Linked DNA regions of Homo sapiens: region 2 is linked to region 1. Evidence: fine-mapped expression QTL. A gene starts in region 1. The other region holds a variant in brackets. All regions are shown on one strand. Distances are between the middles of the regions.

Region 1 (4,405 bases):
GCACTCATATTTTACCCACTTTTAATTATATGCAAATTCAGGGACAGCTTATGCAGAAATTTCTAGGATGAAGGTGGTAACTATGGGGTTGTCAGGTCATTGCCATGGAAAGGGGCAGTAATGTCTGGGTGTTGCCATGGCAATGGTAAACTGACATGGCATACTGTGAGGCATGTCTTATGGAGAAGTCCTTATGCTCTGGACCTGTTTTGGCTAGTTCCCAATTTGTTCCAGTGTCCAAGCTCTGCCTCAGGAGTCTAGTCCCACCTCTTCCCTGACTACTACTTACTCTTATGACCTTGAAAAACTTATTTCTCTGTACCTCACTTCATTCATTTTTAAATTCTTGATTGTAATAATACTTGTCTCATTAACTTGTTTTGAAATTTAAATGAGTTAGTATACTTATAGCAGTTACACTAGTACCCGAGGCATAGTATGTGCTCAGTAAGTATGCTTACTGTTATTGCTATTATCATCACCTTTGCAGGGTGATTCCTTTAATTCTAATATAATAGAATTATTATAATAGGAAAGAGAGATTGGGCTCAACTCTGGACACAACAGGGACAAGTGGGGATTTATAGCCAAGAAGAATAATGAGGGGGTCAGTGCATAGAAAACTTAATAGAAGACATTAAGGGTAGGGGGGATTCTTGATAAAAAGACCTAATAGGATTCTTACTAAAGGCAGGCTAAGCAATTATATGTCAGAGGTGGAGGATAAGGAACTTTATCAGATATCAAGGGTGATCAGATATTAAGAATTGGGGGGGATGATTATGATTTAGTAGGATTCTTTACTAAAACTAAATTTAGTAAGTTCTTTACTAAATTGGGAGCTGGGGAGGCCAAAGACAAAATGAGGGCCAATGCCAAGGCCTAGTCAAGAAAAGGGTCCAGAGGACCTTAAATAAGTTTGATCAAGAAGATAAGAGTCTTTCGGTTGGGCACAGAGGTTCATGCCTGTAATTGCAGCACTTTGGGAGGCCAAGGCAGGCAGATCACTTGAGGTCAGGAGTTCAAGACCAGCCTGGCCAATATGGTGAAATCCGGTCTGTACTAAAAATGCAAAAATTAGCCAGGTGTGGTGGCATGCTCCTGTAATCCCAGCTACTTGGGAGGCTGAGTCAGGAAAATCCCTTGAACACAGAAGGCAGAGGTTGCAGTGAGCTGAGATCACGCCACTGCACTCCAGCCTAGGTGATAAAGCAAGACTCTGTCTCCAAAAAAAAAAAGAAGACGGTCTTTCTCAAACTACATGAGAGCAGTCAGTTTTTCATGGACTGTGGCATATTCAAGATAAAATACAGTCTCTAAGACAGAGTAAATGCTCATTAATATTTATGAGATGATCAAATGAAGATTAAAAAAAGCCAAGGCTTATAGCGGATAAATAGCTTGTACAAGGTCACATGGAGAGTGGTGTAGCTGGCAATTAGTTCAGGTGTGCAAGATTCCCAAAGTTTCAGCTCTCAGAGATAGTATGATGATCTTGTCCCCAGATCATACCAGAATAAGTTTCAGCTATCTCTTTACTTTAGAAGGGAAATAAATGTGAAATTCAGCCTTAGATACTAATACTTCCATTAGTAGTATAAAGTGTCCTCCAATTCTACCTACAACACCTGCAAGAGCTTCTTCCAGAGTTTTCTCATAGTCACTCTATCTGAAACCTAGCCCATTCCAAAATCAGCACTTTTGTAGCCTTTATTAAAGAATTCAAATGACTCATGGTTTAATTAAGGAACAATTAAAACTTATTAAACCATGGCCAAAAGATTGCTGGCTTGTCTATTGCAAGTTATTGTATGAAATGAAAAATGCCACTGATTATGTACGTAATTGTAGTTCAAAGCAAAGCTACCATCTCATTCTTCATCCATCAGCCTGGGTTTGGGGACTAGCTATTAAAATGGCATGTGCAATTACCTGTCTTTCACAAGAAAAGAATCCCCATGGCTCGCAGACATTTCTGACCTCTTTCTGGAGTTGTACTACTTAGAAATTGCTATTTCACAATTGAGGCAGGAATTCTTGAAAATATATAAGGCAGGATCAAAGTGAGCTGGACGGACACCAGGTCACTTCTTTTCCCTACATCTGACTGCCTTGGCCACTTCAGTACTATGAGAGCAACAGCCATAGTCCTACTCTTGGCTCTGACACTTGCAACCATGTTCAGTGAGTATCTCTGATAATACTGCCCCTGCCCTTGTACTAATAGCTCATGCAGTCTTCTGCCTATGTAATTCTGGGATATATGTAATTCATCACATAAATAATAAGGGAAACTTTTTAAAATGAATCTTTTGCCTCAACCAACGAATTGCTAAATCACATCACCTCAGGGGTAGAGTGGATGTTAACAGTCATCTAAAGTCAAATGCTTATTCATGAGAATACTTTGTATAATTTTTTAGGGAGAGGATCATCCAGACTCTGCTTTGACTTGATGTCACCATTTACAGGGAACTCATTTATTCATAAAACATTACAATCAATTGTTTGGCACCATGGGCTATTCTTCTATTATTGAGTTAAAATTGGCCTCCCTAGAATTTTCAACCACTGTTCCAACATCTGTCATCTACACCTGTCCACAATAGCACATCTCCCTAAATATGACTCACTTATTTCTTCTGTCTCTACTGAGCTCTGGTTATGAAGTAAAAAAGATTAAGACAAAATTCTCATTCATCGTGGCATCTTTTCCATTTCTTTGACTAGATTCCACTCCCACTCCAAAAAAGAAAAAAAATTTAAAGATACGTGTGAAGAGCTTCAACCTTTGATACAATGCTGATACACAGTTGTGAAGAGAGACTTACATTTTTATGACAGGCTGAAAGCTAAAGCATAAATCAAAGATTCTTTTTCTAGTAAGATTAGGTTCTTCCAGAGTTTAATATTGCCTTGTCTTTGTTTTTCTTCCAGGTATAGAATGTGCCAAACAGACGAAACAGATGGTCAGTACACCCATCCTACTTTTATGTAATTTTAAAGTCAATATCAGTAAGGAAATATTTGATACTACACAGTAATTAAATTTCTATATGTTTGAATATTTACTTTATGTGTATGAAAACTGGTTTTATTTCAAAAATTGTAGGCAGATCTTTCTAAAATGGAGAGAGTAGAACAAGGTGGTGAGACACTAGCAACAAATTTAGAAAGGCCTGGTCTTTAATTCCACGTTTTTGATCACGTGGCCATGGGCAACATACTTATAACATTATTCCAAGACTTGAAGCCATAGTATTTGAAAAGAGCTTAGCACAGTGCCTGGCATAGAGTGAAACTCAATAAGGGCAAGTCATGATTCTTATAATTTTTAAATGGGTCACACATATCTTTGTTCTCTGTCTTAGAAAATAAGGACTTTAATTTAGCCTTCCATTCATGACTCAGGTTACAGTAATGAGTATTGTTGAAAAAATCTAGGTGTGGTAGCAAAAATCTTATTTGGTACTCAATTTGAGTTCCACTCTAAACTCTGTTGCTTATTAACTGTGTGACACTGGGGCCTGGGAAATTTATTTTATGTCTTTGAGGCTTCTGTTTTACCTATTAAAGAAAATAATAGGGTTAAGGATATAAATTTTGGAGTCAGATGGGCCTGAGTTCAAGCCATCCTTCATGATTTAGTAGCTGTGAGAGGATGTAAAGGATTACTGAAAGTTACGAGCTTGGTAGTTTCCCATCACATTGTTGAGTATCACATAAACTCTGTCTCCCTGGGATTTGAGCAGGCAAGAAGAGGAAGTGAAATCACGCTGGCATATACTTATCATCAGGCACTGCTGTTTCTATTCTGCTGCACTAGCCTCTAAGGTCCTCCTGCCATTATGCCATGCATACCTATCTTTGCATCAGCTCCACTAACCTTAGCCCGATAACAGGAGGTGTATGGAAGCTGATGAATGAATGAATGAATTAATTAATGAAGCACATCTGGAGGGAAGGAAGAATTCAACTTTAAGTTTGAGTATATTCCAAGCTATTCAAGTAGAGATAGTCCACAATTAATAAAATATCATGCCTAGACCTCTCAGACAAAACAAGCTGGAGATGCAGTCTTTTGTATACAGCTGGAGTTTGTGTAGACCTGAAAGAGAAATCAAAAGATAAAAAATTGTGCCTATTATTCATTCAATATTTTCCATGCAATGTAGTGCTAAGCATTGTACACATATCTTTTCATTTACATATTTTTTACTTCCACCCTACAATGTGGTTATTATCTTTATTTTACAGATAAAAAAACTAAAGTTTAGAGAGGTAAAAAAATTTTTACAGGGTCACATAGAATTTGCATTCAGATGTGTTTGACTTTACTCTATATGCTCTTCTATATGCTCATAGATTTTTTAAAAAATATGAAAAACTTTTCTTGGGAATTGCC
Region 2 (4,405 bases), 110 kb after region 1:
AAGTGTGGTAAGAGGCAGGAAATACAGAATATCCTAGATATTTCAAAGTAATCTGGGATTCCCAACCCTGAGCGAAGACAATCTAACTCTAGGTTTTCACTGTAACCTGTTAACCAAATTATCTAAGTAATGCTTACATTAGCCACAAGAGGCCGCTGCTTTGTAATTTTTGGCTTAGTCATGTCTTTGTCTAACCTAACCTAAACTGTTAGATCAGTGGAAGTACAGCTGGCAGCGCTAAAATCATTCAAAAGTTGCTAAGACTGGAATAGCTGAAAAAAAATCTGGAAGATGCCAACTACGATAGTCACTCTGAATATATATATAATACGAAGGGCTGGAGAGTGATTGCTCTACAGCAAGGGTCAGCAAACTATATAGGTCCAAATGGTAAATATTTTAGGCTCAATGGGCCACATTCTCTGTGGCAACTGCACAACTATTGTGAAAGTCATAGACGATATAAACGAATGGGCATGGCTGTGTTGCAATAAAACTTTATGGACACAAATTTCAATTTCATGTAATTTTCACGTCACAAAATAAAACTTTTTCCACAGCCATTTACTAAAGTAAAACACCATCCTGAAGGCTCATAGACCAGATTTGGCCTCCAGGCCACGGTTTGGCCACACCTGCCATAGAGAACTGAGATATCCTATTCATTCATTTAATTATATCACCAGCTGTTGGTGCAGTGCAGTGCCTGGCACATTTTTTAAAGGCCTTAAAAATACTGCATGGATGATATATAACTTAATATCAGTGAGAGAATTGTGTCTCATTGCCAGGTGTGTAGGTCTAACAGTCTCCCTAAATAATAGCTAGTACCACAATTCTTACAGGGACTTCATATGTAGAATCTGAAGACCTGAGTTCAGTTTTTGACTTCCTCAAACAACTGATGGGAGAGCTGGAGATGGTTGGAACCCCTACCCTTCAGCCTCAGTTTTCTTTTCTGTCAAATGGTAACAACTAATAATATAACCACCCACCCCATAGGGCAGTGGTTAGTTTCCAATAGGAGCCGCCAGTAAACTGGACAGTGTGATGCCAGTGGAGGTAGTATTGCTTCCAGTATAATTTCTTTTATTATCAAAAGAAGTTTGGGTGTTGCCCAGGCTGGAGTGCAGTGGCACGATCTCAGCTTACTGCAACCTCTGCCTCCTGGTTCAAGCGATTCTCCTGCCTCAGCCTCTCAAGTAGTTGGGATTATAGGCACCCGCCACCATGCCAGGCTAATTTTTGTATTGTTAGTAGAGACGGGGTTTTGCCATGTTGACCAGTCTGGTCTTAGACTCCTGACCTCAGGTGATCCACCCGCTCGGCTTCCCAAAGTGATGGGATTACAAGCGTGAGCCACCGCGCCCAGCCAAGTTTGGTTTTGTTTGTTTTTTGTGGCGGGGGGGGCGGGGGGCGGGTGCTGTGTGGGGTTTTTTTGGACTCATCTTTCCATAACCTGTTCCTCATACCATATTCCAGGATAGTAGGAAACAGAACTGGTGAGGCTGTTGAGAAAGAGGAAATCATGACAGTATGAAAGCTAGCATTTTTAAAAGTGATCATTACTAAGTGCTTTCCATACCTCCTGCAATAACACTTTAAATGTATGATCAATATGTTCCTACTTTACTGGTGAGAAAACTCGGTTTTAGAAGGTTACATAACTTGCTCAAAAGCACACATCTAGGAATTGATGGGAGCAGGATGCTGTCAAAGGATGACATCCTGCAGGATGAGTCCAAAGCCTGTGCAACTTGGGCAGTTTCTTGGTCCTTCATAATGAGAGGAGGCCCATATAAGGGTGGGCCTGCCCTAATAGGGAACCTGCCAAGTCAACTTACTGCTGCCACTTAAATTGAAACCACTCCAGCTATGTTTAGCACAGTCCCAGAAAAACAGAGGCTGATTTTCTGATGCGGGAGATGTCCCATTTACACATGGGAGGCAGGTAGAATGCAAAAGAACACTGCAAT[C/T]CATACAATGTCTATAGCAAGAAATGGATACGCAGCAGCTAAAAAAAACTATATGTGTTAATGTGAAATGATGTTTAGAGTACACTGTTGAAAACGCAAGTAGCAGATTATTATATACCAACATCATTTTATTTACATATAAGAAAAAAAGCCATATGTTATACATGTACATTTATACATATGTAAATGCATAGAAAATTACATTTGAATTACATAAGCCAAGTGAAAAAAGCATTTACTTCTGGGGAGGGGGGTAGCATTGAGTTGGAGTCAAGGGGTATTTTCTTGTATGTATTAATATATATAACAAATTTTTACAGTGGAAATGGATTGCATAAATACATCATTTATGTAACCTATTATTTATATAGTCTAAAAATGTATAATTTATATATTTAGAAATAAAATAAACTTAAGAAGGAAGCACTTTGTTAGAATTGAGAAATCTGAATGTTTTCAGTCCTCTGACTTCAGCCTCATATCAGCTCTTGTTCTTGGACAAATCACTTTCCCTGACAAAGTCTTTCCTCTTCTGTAAAATGAAGTCAACAATCCCTCTTTATATACTGTTATGAGAGACTTAGAGATCTTATAAAAGTGCAGAGAAACTGCACAAAGCTTGCAATGGTAGGCTGATGCTTAATGAGACCAATGGGAGCATATCCAAATAGTGTTCCAGGTTCCGACCAAGAAATATGGGGAAGGCAAACTGCCTTTTTCAGGGGCCACTCCTACTATGAGCAGCCTCTCTGATGGCCTGGAATATAAAGGACCAATGCTTTCTTTGACTCACATCTTGTTCTCACAGTCTATTGCTGGTTATTCAGTAATCCCAGGTTGCTGAATACTAGACAGACTATAAAAGATCAGTGCAGAGGGCCTTTCCTGTTGATCAATAATTTACCAGAGTCTTCCATGGTTTAAAGATGGAAGTTGAGGCTCAGGGAGAGGAAGCAAGAGCAAAGGAAAACAAGAAAGCAAATGAGTGGCAGAGTTCAAACTGGAATAGGCATTCCAGAGTTCCTCTTCGGGTCCCAGGCTGATGTGGAAAGGAAAATTCTTAAGCAACATTGTTCATTGCTCTCTCCTAGCAGTGTCTAACAGGTGAAGGTGGAATACATACATCCCCATAATGACCACAGTTGCACATGCTTAGGACTGTGGGCCTCATTTAGAATAAGACTGCCTGGGTTTGCATTTCAAATCCACACTTCCCAGGTCTGCTACCTTGAGCTAGTCGCCAGATGTCTTAGCTGAGGTTTGCTCAGCTGTAAAGTGGGGGTAATTTTCATTCTAATCTTGTAAGGATTTCATAAGGATTAAATGAAATAGTTCATATAAAGCACTGACCACAATGCCTAGCAGAAAAAAAAAACTCATTAAATGTCAGTTTCTCTTATTGCTATTTTATTATTATTTTTATTAACAAAGATATAGATCTGGGGCAAACTGAAAGAAAAGGTAAAGAAGGAGAAACCTAATCTGAATCCACTGTAACAGTAGTTAAAAATGTATGCAGTTTCTTATCCCTTCTCTCCATGTTTCCAAAAGTGTAGAATGCAGCTTGTAGCTAAATCACAATAACTCCTAAAGCTTGGAAGCTTCTCTTTTGTAAATTCTCTTTTGACCCTCCCAATTAACTGAAAGAGCCCCAAGCAAGAGGTAGGGCATTTCTAACAACTCTCCAACATTCACTTGTCTCCCTTTTAAACACAGAAACAGAGGTTGCACTTTGATCACTGGCATCTAGTTAAAACTCATTAGCCTTTTTTTCTATTTTGAGTACTGATATAATGTTCCCTTCAAAAATAAATTTAGGTAAGTGAAAACTTGAATGGACTTAAATAAGGATATTAAATAGGTAACAGAACAGGCAGAACACATTTGATAAAAATCCTAACAGTGGCCCTCAGATGACCCATGTTGGAGCACTTACAACAATCGTACAAACTCAGAAATTATCTCTATTTTGTAGATGAGACAGGTGAAGTTAAGTGTTGGGTAAGGCCCAAAGCAATGCGTTGTTCATACTTAGGACTTCAAATCCATTCCTGAATTGTTTGACTTCAAACCAAATATTCAGCCTCAGTTTTCTAAATTAGATGGAAAAGAGATTACAAATTTTGGCCAGAAGAGGTAAATGCATTAGTCTTTTTTTCCTTCCTAGACTAGATGTTACAAGATTTTGACCACAGCAAAGTGAAGAGACAAAAAGAGAGGAGTGACAACGTTTTCTCACCAGAGAGATCCAATACCAAAGAGATAAGTGGGTAGACAGCACAGCACCAAGAAGACATTATTTTTGTTCTTGCTTGAAGACAATATTAAAGGCAGTGTAGTTATATCCACTCCCCAGCCCCTCCCTAGGTCCCCTCCCTCATCCACCCCATGCCCACCCCCGCCCCCCCACCACTCTCCAGCTAGACAGC

Which allele goes with the higher level. Positions count from the first base shown, and alleles are read on the strand shown. Sizes are in standard deviations (SD) of each study's normalised expression.
With allele C in place of T in region 2, the expression in putamen of the gene that starts at base 2,075 in region 1 is lower (moderate effect, 0.71 SD a copy in GTEx).

The links. PIP is the estimated chance that this variant, and not a neighbour inherited with it, causes the effect. A credible set is the group of variants that fine-mapping cannot tell apart.
Region 2: its variant is the best candidate, but not a certain one, in a credible set for the expression of SPINK9 in putamen (GTEx, PIP 0.87).

The regions. Positions count from the first base shown.
Region 1 is chr5:148,333,485-148,337,889 of GRCh38, forward strand. It overlaps SPINK9 (serine peptidase inhibitor Kazal type 9), which reads left to right and starts at 2,075. Exons shown (of 4, transcript NM_001040433.2): 1 at 2,075-2,184; 2 at 2,938-2,969. The coding sequence starts at 2,130. All of the region lies in intron 2 of FBXO38-DT (FBXO38 divergent transcript), which reads right to left.
Region 2 is chr5:148,443,956-148,448,360 of GRCh38, forward strand. No RefSeq gene overlaps it. Among named protein-coding and RNA genes, the nearest start is that of FBXO38, 62 kb to the left of the region's middle. The variant C/T (reference allele first, on the strand shown) is at 1,977.